2 linked regions of the Homo sapiens genome follow. The protein of the gene in region 2 interacts with the protein of the main gene of each other region in a pairwise test. Each region holds a gene or a part of one and is shown on either strand. Other genes may lie near its edges.

Evidence for each region.
Region 1: the proteins of FTHL17 (region 2) and SLC35E1 interact in binary tests that used the Homo sapiens proteins (3 or more experiments, as listed by UniProt).

What each region holds. Positions count from the first base shown.
Region 1 is NC_000019.10:16,549,118-16,555,490, reverse strand, and holds the end of SLC35E1 (solute carrier family 35 member E1), read left to right. Parts: intron 1-93; coding exon 94-339; intron 340-1,581; coding exon 1,582-1,812; 3' UTR 1,813-5,654; downstream 5,655-6,373. UniProt on the Homo sapiens protein: Putative transporter.
Region 2 is NC_000023.11:31,070,485-31,075,905, forward strand, and holds FTHL17 (ferritin heavy polypeptide-like 17), read right to left. Parts: upstream 1,558-5,421; 5' UTR 1,470-1,557; coding exon 918-1,469; 3' UTR 749-917; downstream 1-748.

The sequences.
Region 1 (6,373 bases), on a different chromosome or scaffold from region 2:
CACATCCCTTCCCCTAACCCTGCCAGGTGGATACAGGGAGGCAGGGTCACCGCTGCCCACTGAAGTGCTGTCTTTACCTTCCGGTCTCTGCAGACCTACGTCTACCAGTGGCCCTGGACGCTCCTGCTCCTGGCTGTCAGCGGCTTCTGTAACTTTGCCCAGAATGTTATCGCCTTCAGCATCCTCAACCTCGTTAGCCCCCTGAGCTACTCGGTCGCCAATGCCACCAAAAGAATCATGGTCATCACGGTGTCCCTGATCATGCTGCGCAACCCAGTCACCAGCACCAACGTCCTGGGCATGATGACCGCCATCCTGGGGGTCTTCCTCTATAACAAGGTGAGAGTCTGAGAGGCTGGGCAGGGAAGGAAGCCGGCCCCCCAACACCCAGGAAGTCAGAAAAGGAAGGGCCTCCCGGGCGCTCAAGGCTGGGGTTGTATGTCAGAGCTTTGCCACTGACTGGTTTATGATCTTGGCGTAGCCCCATCCCACTCTGGCTTCCTTTTTCCTGCATAGGCAACCTCAGGTCCTCAAATCATTCCGGCTGTGTCTCAGCTGGGGTTTTCCCTCCCTCCTCTCAAAGGCTCTGTTTAGTGCGGTGTAAGGACATGGGATGGCCAACAGGGAGGGCTTGCCTTCTTTTCCTTTTCTTTTTTTTTTTTTTTTTTTTCGAGATGGAGTCTGGCTCTGTCACCCAGGCTGGATTGCAGTGGCGCTCCATCCCAGCTTACTGCAACCTCCGCCTCCCGGGGTCAAGCGATTCTCCTGCCTCAGCCTCCCGAGTAGCTGGGACTACAGGCGCCTACCACACCTGGCTAATTTTTGTATTTTTAGTAGAGATGGGGTTTCACCATCTTGGCCAGGCCAGCCTCCAACTCCTGACCTCAGTTGATCCACCTGCCTTGGCCTCCCAAAGTGTAGGGATTACAGGCATGAGCCACCACACCTGGCCTCTTCATTTGTTTCTTAACACATGTAGATATGGGGTCTCTCTATTTTGTCCAGTCTGGTCTCCAACTCCTAGCCTCAAGTGATCCTCCCGCCTAGGCCTCCCAAAGCACTTGAACTACAGGCATAAGCCACTGCGCCTGGCCAAGGACTTGTCTTCTGAGTCTGTCCATGCACTGTGGTCTGGTCCATTCAAGTCTGCTTTCCTTGCTCAAGCCCTATGACTTATGCCGGCCCCGGAGGTTAACTGACTTTTTTTTTTTTTTTTTTTTTTTCTGAGACAGCGTCTTGCTCTGTCTCCCAGGCTGGAGTGCAGTGGTATGGTCCCAGCTCACTGCAACCTCCGCCTCCTGGGTTCAAGTGATTCTTGTGCCTCAGAACGCCTGAGTAGCTGGAACTACAGCATGCGCCACCACACCCGGTTAATTTTTTGTATTTTTAGTAGAGACGGGGTTTTGCCATGTTGCCCAGGCTGGTCTCAAACTCCTGAGCTCAGGTGATCCTCCCGCCTCGACCTCCCAAAGTGCTGGGATTACAGGTGTGAGCCACCGCAGCCAGCCAGTTGATTGACTTTGAATTACGAGCTCTTATGCCCCGGGCATGTCCTGTCTCATTGCTCTCTTTCTGGCACAGACCAAGTACGATGCAAACCAGCAAGCCAGGAAGCACCTCCTCCCCGTCACCACAGCAGACCTGAGCAGCAAGGAGCGTCACCGGAGCCCACTGGAGAAGCCCCACAACGGCCTCCTCTTCCCCCAGCACGGGGACTATCAGTACGGCCGCAACAACATCTTAACAGACCACTTCCAATACAGCCGGCAGAGCTACCCAAACTCGTACAGTTTGAACCGCTATGATGTGTAGAGTCCAAAGGACAGGACCAGACTGTTGGTGACTCCTTCCCCGGCCCCCACAGCAGTATCAGAAACTTCTGACAATCAGTGAATGTACAACCCAGCCGAGGGGACGGTGCATAACTCTCCATCAGAAGCCCTGGGGTTCCTGGCCCCCCGTGAGCCGCAGGAGGATGCGTTGCCTGCAGTGCAGACGGCCGTGAGCTCTGGGCAAACCTAAACAGAGACCAGTGTCTCATGCTCTTTCTTCCTGGAGTCTGTCATCTGAGGGCCGTGTCCCTGCGGAGATCTTGGCCACGTTGTACCTTTCCATGTGGAATTATTCCCCAAGCAGTGTAGCTCAGAGCACTTGTGTCTGCATTCCAGATAACATTCAGGACCTGTGTGAAAAGCTGGGGTCACTGTGGCTGTAGACCATGAACTGGCAGTGGGGGTGTCCAGGGCGGTGCTTGAGAACGTCAGACTGGCTAGTTTAATTCCCTGGCGCAGATACGCATAGGACCAACAGGGTCACCAAGCAGACAGGGAGCCCGCGAGAATCATTCAAAACATCCCCAGCCACAGAGATGGATCCAGTTTCCTGGTCATCCCCTTAGCAGTTCACAAGTTCCTGGCAAATGTTCCAAAGCAAAAAGCGATTGCAATTAGCATCCAGTTCCTGCAGCCTGGTGCTCTGCCCTGCACGTCAGGGTTGGCATCCACCCAGATCCAGATGGAAGGGAAACTTCTCTCTTCTCCTTTGCCTCCTCTTCCCTCACCAGAGCAGGGCGCTTCTCTTGGGGTGGTGAGAAGGATCTTCGAGAAATCGTGTTCAGTATTTCAAGCTCTATTTCTGTGGCACATGTCTTTTGAGAGGCATCTTCACCTCTTCTGTGATGACTTGGTATGTTGTTTGGTAGAGAGATCTTGATTTTCGGAGGATCTTGCATTTTTCTAGGGAATATTTTGTAGTTGTGTGTGTGTGTTTTTGCCTTGGTCCCCATTATGGGATGCATTAGGACTGGCCTATGCATCGAAAATCTTTTTGTTTGTAAACGTTTAAAAACAAAGTTCCCCGGCCAGGCACAGTGGCTCACACCTGTAATCCCAGCACTTTGGGAGGCCAAGATGGGCGGATCACGAGGTCAGGAGTTCGAGACCAGCCTGGCCAACATAGTGAAACCCCATCTCTACTAAAAATACAGAAATTAGCCGGGCATGGTGTCGCGTGCCTGTAGTCCCAGCTCCTCAGGCTGCTGAGGCAGGCGAATTGCTTGAACCTGGGAGGCAGAAGTTGTGGTGAGCCGAGATTGTGCACTCCAGCCTGGGTAACAGAGCGAGACTCCATCTCAAAAAAAAAAACAAAACAAAACCAAGTTCCCACTGGTGATGCCTGTCTGACACGTTTTGGTATTTAGTAGGAAATGAAGTGTTTCGAAGCTTCGAGAGAAGCTTCAAAATTGTCACAATTGCTGAAAACAGAATGAATCGTGAACATTATCTCAATATTTTGTATAATAGACAAGACCACAGTGTTTTGGTTCCCTGACCTGTTTTTGTGTTTATGTTAGGATCTGAATCATGTTCTGGGTAAGGGGACGAGGAGCGAACACTGCACTAAGATTTGGTTTGCCAAATCAGATTCTTTGGTCAAGAGTCAGTTTGGGGCCAGGCGTGGTGGCTCATGCCTGTAATCTCAGCACTTTGGGAGGCTGAGGTGGGTGGATCACTGGAGTTTGAGACCACCCTGGCCAACATGGTGAAACCCCATCTCTACTAAAACAAAAATTAGCCAGGCATGGTGGCACCTGCCTGTAATCCCAGCTACTTGGGAGGCTGAGGCAGGAGAATCACTTGAGCCCAGGAGGTGGAGGTTTCAGCGAGCTGAGATCACACCACTGCACTCCAGCCTTGGTGACAGAGTGAGACTCTGTCTCAAAAAAAAAAAAAAAAAAAAGGAATCAGTTTGGGTCTTGGCAGAAATCAACATAAGGAATATGACAAGACCCCAGTAGGTAACCCTGAGTGCTCAGGTCCGAGCTGTGGTCTCTTTTACGGCTTCATGAAAGGACCGTGCCCTCACGGAGGGGACCACGGCTTGGCTTGTGGGGTCTTAGGTGATGGCTGCCTTCTTTCTTCATCACCACACCCAGCTTCTTGCTGGCACTTAGGGGAAGAGAGCAGCAAATGAGAGATTTACCTTTTATCTCCCAGCGAGCGAGATGTTTCCCTGTTCAGAGAGGAAGTAACATCACTTATGCTTGACTGGTGTTTCTTTTGTTGTTGTTTGTTTTTCTTTCAATTGGAATTCTGTATTTAAGATGTTATGTCAGCTGACACATGGGACACTCCTGAAGAGGTGACTGGCCCCCCACCCTGTTTGGCGGTGAGTTTCCGCACCACCGGCCTCAGAAGTGTCCCTCTTGCTTCGTCTCTTGTTCGCTTGCTTTGTAAATACTTTGGTCCCAAGCTGAGACAATTGCTGTGTAAAACGTGAAGAGTCAATCCCAAAGGGTGTTATTTGTCAGAAGAACTTGCCGTGTGCCTTCACCGAAGGCAGTCAAGTCTGCAGTTGGATTTTTCTCACTGGTGAATGACAAGAAACAGGGATAATTTTGCACTGCGGAGATATTACGGGAGTTGTCTATATGATTATATATAGTACCTGATTCTTTGAACATATTATTGAACTCCAAAATGAATTCGACCTCCATTCAGGCTTCCTGAAATCTCTGAAGTTGCTGAAATTTGTATATTATTTTCCTTTTCCAATGCAAGATCTGCTGGTGACGGGAAATGACTGTCTGGTTTTATTATGGTTTATAAATTAATAAATGGGCTATTTAATTCTGTATATAAATTTACAGCAAGTACGTACACTGGAATGAATGAGGCAATCACGTTACACCAAATCAGCAGATCAAAAGACAAACACATATTTCTGAGACTTGAAGGTCCACATCCCCCCGCCCCCTGCCAAGATGGAGTCTTGCTTTGTTGCTCAGGCTGGAGTGCAGTGGCGCAGTCTCAGCTCACTACAACCTCCATCCCCCGGGTTCAGGTGATTCTCGTGCCTCAGCCTCCCGAGTAGCTGGGATTACAGGCATGCACCACCACGGCTGGCTAATTTTTTGTGTTTTTAGTAGAGACAGGGTTTCACCATGTTGGCCAGGCTGGTCTCGAACTCCTGGCCTCAAATGATCCGCCCACCTTGGCCTCCCAAAGTGCTAGGATGACAGGCATGAGCCACCGTGCCCAGCCTGATTGACAATGGCCTCTTGAAGGCTGGGTTTTCCCAGCCGGACAGTGCCCGCCCCACATGCTCCACTCCCACGCTTTCATCTGCAGGCCTGCCTTCCTCTCAGCCACCTCACTGCTGAGCTCTGTGGTAGAGAATTTCCTTTACCCATCAGGGTATGGTCTGGCTGGTAATACTGACTCCAACCCAGCTCCTTCATTTTATAGAAGGAGGCATTTCTGAATCATGTTTGTTCACCATGGCGAGACTCACTGCAGAATTTTTAACCACCTTATTTTAAGTCATTCATTCTAGGAACAGTCAAGCCCCTACCACAAAGGGGCCAGATCCGTTCAAGTGAGGAAGCACTTGCAGTTTCTGAATTTTGCTGTATATTTGTCCTATGTCACCCAACAGGCCCTTTGCTATAGCTGGGACATTACCAGACCCCAATACCTTAGGGTCTCACAGCCTGAAGGACACAGAGCATTGAATTATTAAAAGACCTGAAAATATTATAATGTTTTTCAATTGTCACCTGTTTTCAAGACTTAAATGCTATAGACTTTTCTGCAGGAATGACGTGTATATTCCTCACTGGCATTTACCAAAAATAAATGATGGTTTCCAGGGAATCAAAATTGGTCCCGATTTGTCAGCGAGGGTCTCTTTTTGAGTGGCCCTGTCTTCAGTGTGCCCAGCAACAAAATGTGGAAGGAGGAGAAAGAGCAAGCCAACTTGGCTGTCACGTCTGGATTTACTGCAACCTTTGTTTTTTCTTCTGAGCCAAAAATAAGGACGTGCAATTTGTGAATTGATTAGATGATACAATGAAAATAGGATCACAGCTAAATTAATGACGTGACTTTATTGAACGGAATAACATGGGAAGTCCAGGAACATTGTGGCAGCTGTGCTTATGAAACTTTTTTTTTTTTTTTTGGTATGTTTCATGTTTTTTGAGACAGGATCTCATTCTGTCGCCCAGGCTGGAGTACAGTGGCGCAATCCCGGCTCTCAGCAGCCACAACCTCCCAGACTCAAGGGATCCTTCCGCCTCAGCCTCCCAAGTAGCTGGGATACAGGCATGTGCCACCAAACCTGGCTAATTTTTGTATTTTTTGTAAAGATGGAGTTTCACCTTGTTGCCCAGGCTAGTCTCAAACTCTGGGGCTCAAGCTATCTGGCCTGTTATGTTTTTGGTTTAAGAGACAGGGTCTCACCTTATTACCCAAGCTGGACTGCGGTGGCACGACCACAGCTTCCTGCAGCACCAAACCCTACATTCCAGTCCCCTGCCTCAGCCTCCCAAGTAGCTGGTCCAGGTGTACACTACCACACCCAGCTAATTTTT
Region 2 (5,421 bases):
TTGATATACTTGCAGGGTAACAGAAAGAAAAAGGAACATGGCATCAGAAGATCGAGGTTCATGTCCAGATTCCACAACTTCTTGCCTGTATGGCCTCCCTTTTTGTCACTAATAAAGTCATGATACTTGTCCTTCCTTCTTCCTGAGATTCTTGTAAAAACAAAGTACAACAATGTAAATAAAAGGACTTGGACTTGCAAAGTGCCATTTTAGTTTGTCAGCCCCTTGGCTATGGGGAAGCCAGCTTAAGGCTCCCACTACAACTGTCACCCAAAGTGAGCTTGCCAAAGAAGTACCCTGCTGTGCTGTCACCCAGAGCCCCCACTTGCTACTCAGAATCCACAAACATTAACATTGGCATATTTTAATAAACTACAAGTTTTCATGTAAAGTTGAAGACCCTTTGTTTATTTTAATCCTTGCCCAATCCCATTTCCTTCACTTCTTCCCCAGAGGCAACCACTATGATGAATTCCAGACCACGTTTTACACTTTACCGTGCCCATGCACCCACAGCCACCAGGGCCCAAGAGTGACCACCCCACCCCATCCCACCCCACATACCCTGGTAGTTTACAAAGGGAAGACTAATGTGTTTTCCAGGGGCCCATAAAATACCATTCCACTCCACCCCTGCAAATCCTGAGCTGCATGCAGATGGGGCAGGGGTGGGTGGAGAGACTGCTGGATACCTACTTTAAACCTGCATGGGGATTTGCCCTGATTCCTAAAAGGTGAGAGTTGCAGGTGTATCAAATGGACACCTTTATTGCTTTGAGAACCAGATAACTTTTTTGCTAACAATGGTAAAACTGAAAGATAAAACTGAAGAGAACGTTCTGAAAGGGCAACATGCACGCCCCGCCTAGTGGCCTGACCCAGGGAAGGGACCCCGTGGCTGTGGGGCCCATCTGGGCTCAAGTCTCTTTGACGCGGCCGCCCAGGGTGAGCTTGTCGAACAGGTACTCAGCCAGGCCGGCTTCCGGGGAACAAATCTTGCGCAGGTTGCTCACGTAGCCACCCAGCTCTTTGATGGTCTTGACTTGCTCGTGCAGGTAGTGGCTCTCCAGGAAGTGGCACAGCTGGGGGTCGCCCTTCTCCACGGCCAGCTGGTACAGATCCAGCAGGCTCTGGTTGACGTTCTTCTCCAGGTGGAAGGCGGACTCCATGGCCACGAGCCCGCTCTCCCAGCCTTGGCACTCTGGCTTCCTGATATCGTGAAGGCAGATGTGGCCACCGCGCAGGTTCTGCAGCCTCATCAGCTTCTGGGCATGCTCCATTTTGTCGTCCGACAGGCGCAGGAAGTAGCGGAAGAAGTTCTCCAGGGCCACGTCGTCCCGGTTGAAGTAGAAGGCCATAGACAGGTACAGGTAGGAGGTGTAGAGCTCCAGCGTGATGTGGCTGTTGATGGCGGCGTCGCAGTTGGTGTCGTACTTCTGGCGCACCTGCGACGGCTGGGCGGTGGCCATGGCGGGCAGCGCAAGTGCAGGCGAGCACACGGGCGAAGTCGGTGCGGTAGCGAGGGCAGCAGCTGAGGTGACAAGAATGGCGGATAGTGAAAGGCGGGTGTGCGATGAAACCGGAAGTGGGCAGTGGAAGTGGGCAGTGGCGACCGTTAGGGAGGAGCGCGCTCTGTCGGTGGGGGGAGGGGCGGCGGGGGACAGAGTTGCGGGGCAAGGGGGTGGGGGCACAAGCGCTGACTTCCGTCGGAAATCCCGGCCACTTGGCGCTGAATGTTTCAAGACCATCTTTTAAAAATAACTGCTCTAGGCCGGGCACGGTAGCTCACGCGTGTAATCCCAGCACTTTGGGAGGCCGGGGCGGGCGGATCACGAGGTCAGGACATGGAGACCAACCTGACCAACATGGTGAAACCCCGTCTCTACTAAAAATACAAAAAAAATTAGCCAGGCATGCTGGCGCGCGCACCTGTAGTCCCAGCTACTCGGGAGGCTGAGGCAGGAGAATTGCTTGAACCCAAGAGGCGGAGGTTGCAGTGAGCTGGGATTGTGCCGTTACACGCCAGCCTGGGCAACAGAGCAAGACTTGTGTCAAACAACAACAACAAACTGCACTATTGAGATACAATTCCTCTGCCATAAAATTCACCCTCTGAAACATTTCCATGGTTTTTAGTATATTCATGAAGTTGTGTAACTATCACCCCATCACCAAAAATCTAATTTCAGAACGTTTTCCTTATTCCAAAATGAAATCCCCTACCCATGAGTAGTTACTGCCCATCTCGCCTTCCTCACTGGCCCGACAACCACAAATGAAATCTCTGTTTCTAGAGATTTGCTTACTCTGGACATTTCAAATAAATCATACTATATGCGGCCTTTATATGGCCTCTTTCATTTAGCATAATGTCTTTAACTTTTGTCTTTTTTATGGCTGAATTATATTTCATTGTATGGATATACCACATTTTATTTACTCATTCATCAGTCGATGGGCATTTGAGTTGTTTCCATTTTGTGACTATTATGACTAATGCAGCTATGAGGATTTTTATAATAGACATATGTTTTCAACTCCCTTGGGTATATACCTGGGACTAGAATTGCTGGGTCATATGTTAAGACTCTGTTTAACATTTTGAGGAACTGCTAGACTGTTTTCCAAAGTCCCCTCATCATTTTACATGCCCACTAACAATGTATGAAGGTTCCAACACTGTCATTGTCTTTGTTGTTTTTCTAGTGGATGTAAAGTGGTATCTCACTGTGGTTTTGATTTGCATTTCCATAATGGCTATTGATGTTGAGCATCTTTTCATAGTCATTTGTATCTTCTTTGGAGAAAACTCTATTCAAGTCTTTTGTCCATTTTAAAATTGGGTTATTTGTACTTTTATTGCTGAGTTTTAAGAGTTCTATATATATTATGTGTGCCAGTCCTTTTTCAGATATATGATTTGCAAATATTTTCTCTCATTCTGTTTTTTTTTTCACTTTCTTAATGGTGTCCTTTGAAGCACAAAGTTCTTAATTATGTTCAATTTTTCTGTTTTTCTCTTGTCACTTGTGCTTTTAGTGTCCTATCTAAGAAACCATTGCCTAATTCAAGGTCATAAACATTTATGTCCAGGTTTTCTTTGAATAATTTTACAGTTTTAGCTTTTACATTTAAGTTTCTAACTCATTTTGAGTTAATTTTTGTATATGATATGAGGTCATTGTCCAATTTCATTCCTTTGTGTGTGGATATCCAGTTGTCCTAGCACCATTTGTTGAGAAGACCATTCTTTCTCCACTAGATGGTCTTGGCACACTTGTCAAAAATCAATTGACCATAGATGTATGGGTTTATTTCGGGACTCCCAATTCTGTTCTGTCAATCTATGTGTCTAAACTGATGCTGGCACAACACTGGCTTGATTACTATAGCTTTGTAGTAAGTTTTGAAATTGGGAAGTATAGTCATCCAACTCTGCTCTTCTGCAGAGATTGCTTTGGCTATTCTGGGTCCCTTGAATTTCCTATGAATTTTAGGATATGCTTGTCAATTTCGTTTTTTTTTTTTTTTTTTTTTTTAAAAACCAGCCTACTGGGATTTTGTTAGGGATTGCATTAAACCTGTAAGTCATTTGTGGGAATATTGGTATCTTAATATTAACTCTTCTAGTCCATAAACATGGGATGTCTTTTAATTTATTTGGGTCCAGGACGTTTAAAAATAAAGATTTTGATTTAGGCTGGGGCTCCAAATCAGAATTTCTAAGCATCTCAGGTGATGCCAGACCACATTCTGAGTAGCAATGCTCTAAGAGGGAGGAGGCCTCTATCCCTTATCAAGGTTTAGAGATAAAGAGGACACATATATTGGACTCCACAAGCAAAAATTCCTGTTCTCACATCACAGACAATGCTTGTGCTATTTATTATACTAGATGTAGTTTTTTGTGGGAAAGGGAAGAGACCTTTCTCCTATCACAAAAAATTGTGAAAGACTTTAAAATCAGCAAAAACAATTTCCTGGATGTGGTTTTTAGAGTACCTTTCTGGGTTATCTCCATCTTTCATTGACTTAGAGTTATTTTCTAACTCTTCAGATTGTAGAAAACTAATAATAATGCAAACAATTCTTGTCCACAGAAATGCAAATAAATGTCTGGTGAAATGCAATTGATTTTTGACTTATTTTGCATCTATTTGTACATTCCTTATTTCAATATTCCTTATTCCTACATATGTATGGCTCTTTGAATTCTCCTTTGAGCCATTTGTAACATCTTACTAGTTTCCTCATTAATTAATAAGTTAAATAAAATGTTTCATGCACATATTTTATATTTATATGAGAGTCATGATTTTACTTTTTTCCTCGTAATTATTCTTTAGCACTCCCCAGGTCCACCCCCACCCGACCAGGAACACAACTGAAGCCCAGGGAAGTTGACTTGGTAAAGTGAGCACTTTTATGGGTTGCTCACCTGAGATATGATTCCAGAAAATTACTTAGGACCTAAAGGCATAGAATTCCTGACTGTGGAATTCTATATGGACTATGGAAAGATAGCCTCTCTGAGGAGAAGGAGGCAGGGAGTAGTCCAGGGCTGTAGGAGACCAACGAAAACTAGCAGAGGAAGTGGATATCCAGGGAGCAGGCCACAGAGGTACCTCACCAGCAGAACACTGTAGCCACAGTGGGGCTGAGGCTGGCCTGATGCAAACTGGGGAGGATAGAGAAGTAGGGGTGACCAGTAAAGGTCTGTAGAAAACTGGAACCAGCTGAGAACCAGGGAAGTGATGAGAGTTTCCAGGCAGAGAATGTAGTTAACAGAGATTTGAGGGGTGGAAGGTTGACTGACTCAGATGGGAGTTTGACAGGCTGAGGTTCATGGTCTGAGTAAAGTTAACCCTGGGAAAGAGGTAGGAACCTGAGCTTTTGGAGCCAGGATGAAGGATCCTCTCATCAGCACTTTTGTGCTCCCTGAATCATACCCCTGGAAGGGGTGTTCGGATCCACAGATACTAAGAGTGTGGAGTATCCAGGACTGGGCCATGGGCTTCATCTTCCAGAGAAGTTTCCTTCCAGCTGGTGATCAGATGTAGGGACGCTCTAATGCATTCTTCTTGGCCCTACTATGGGACAACTTTTTAGCACAAAGGCCGTAGGACAATGGTTGCTCCTATTTGGTTGGACACTACTGAGACGTCCAACACTCACACCCATACCATATTCTAAAGAAGAAAATGCTCTTTCCAGTCTCTAATTCCTTGCTGTTCTGATTTTGGGGGAAAAAAGAAGAATCACTGTCTTGAGGAGCAAAGGAAAACCCTCAGAACTTAGACATGCCCATTGTATGTAAGTTGATGGCTGATATTCGTCAGTTAAATAGGAATTGTTTCTAAGGTTATAACTTTTCATTTCTATTCAGTGTGCTGAATAATCTCCATCTACCTCTCTAAGACT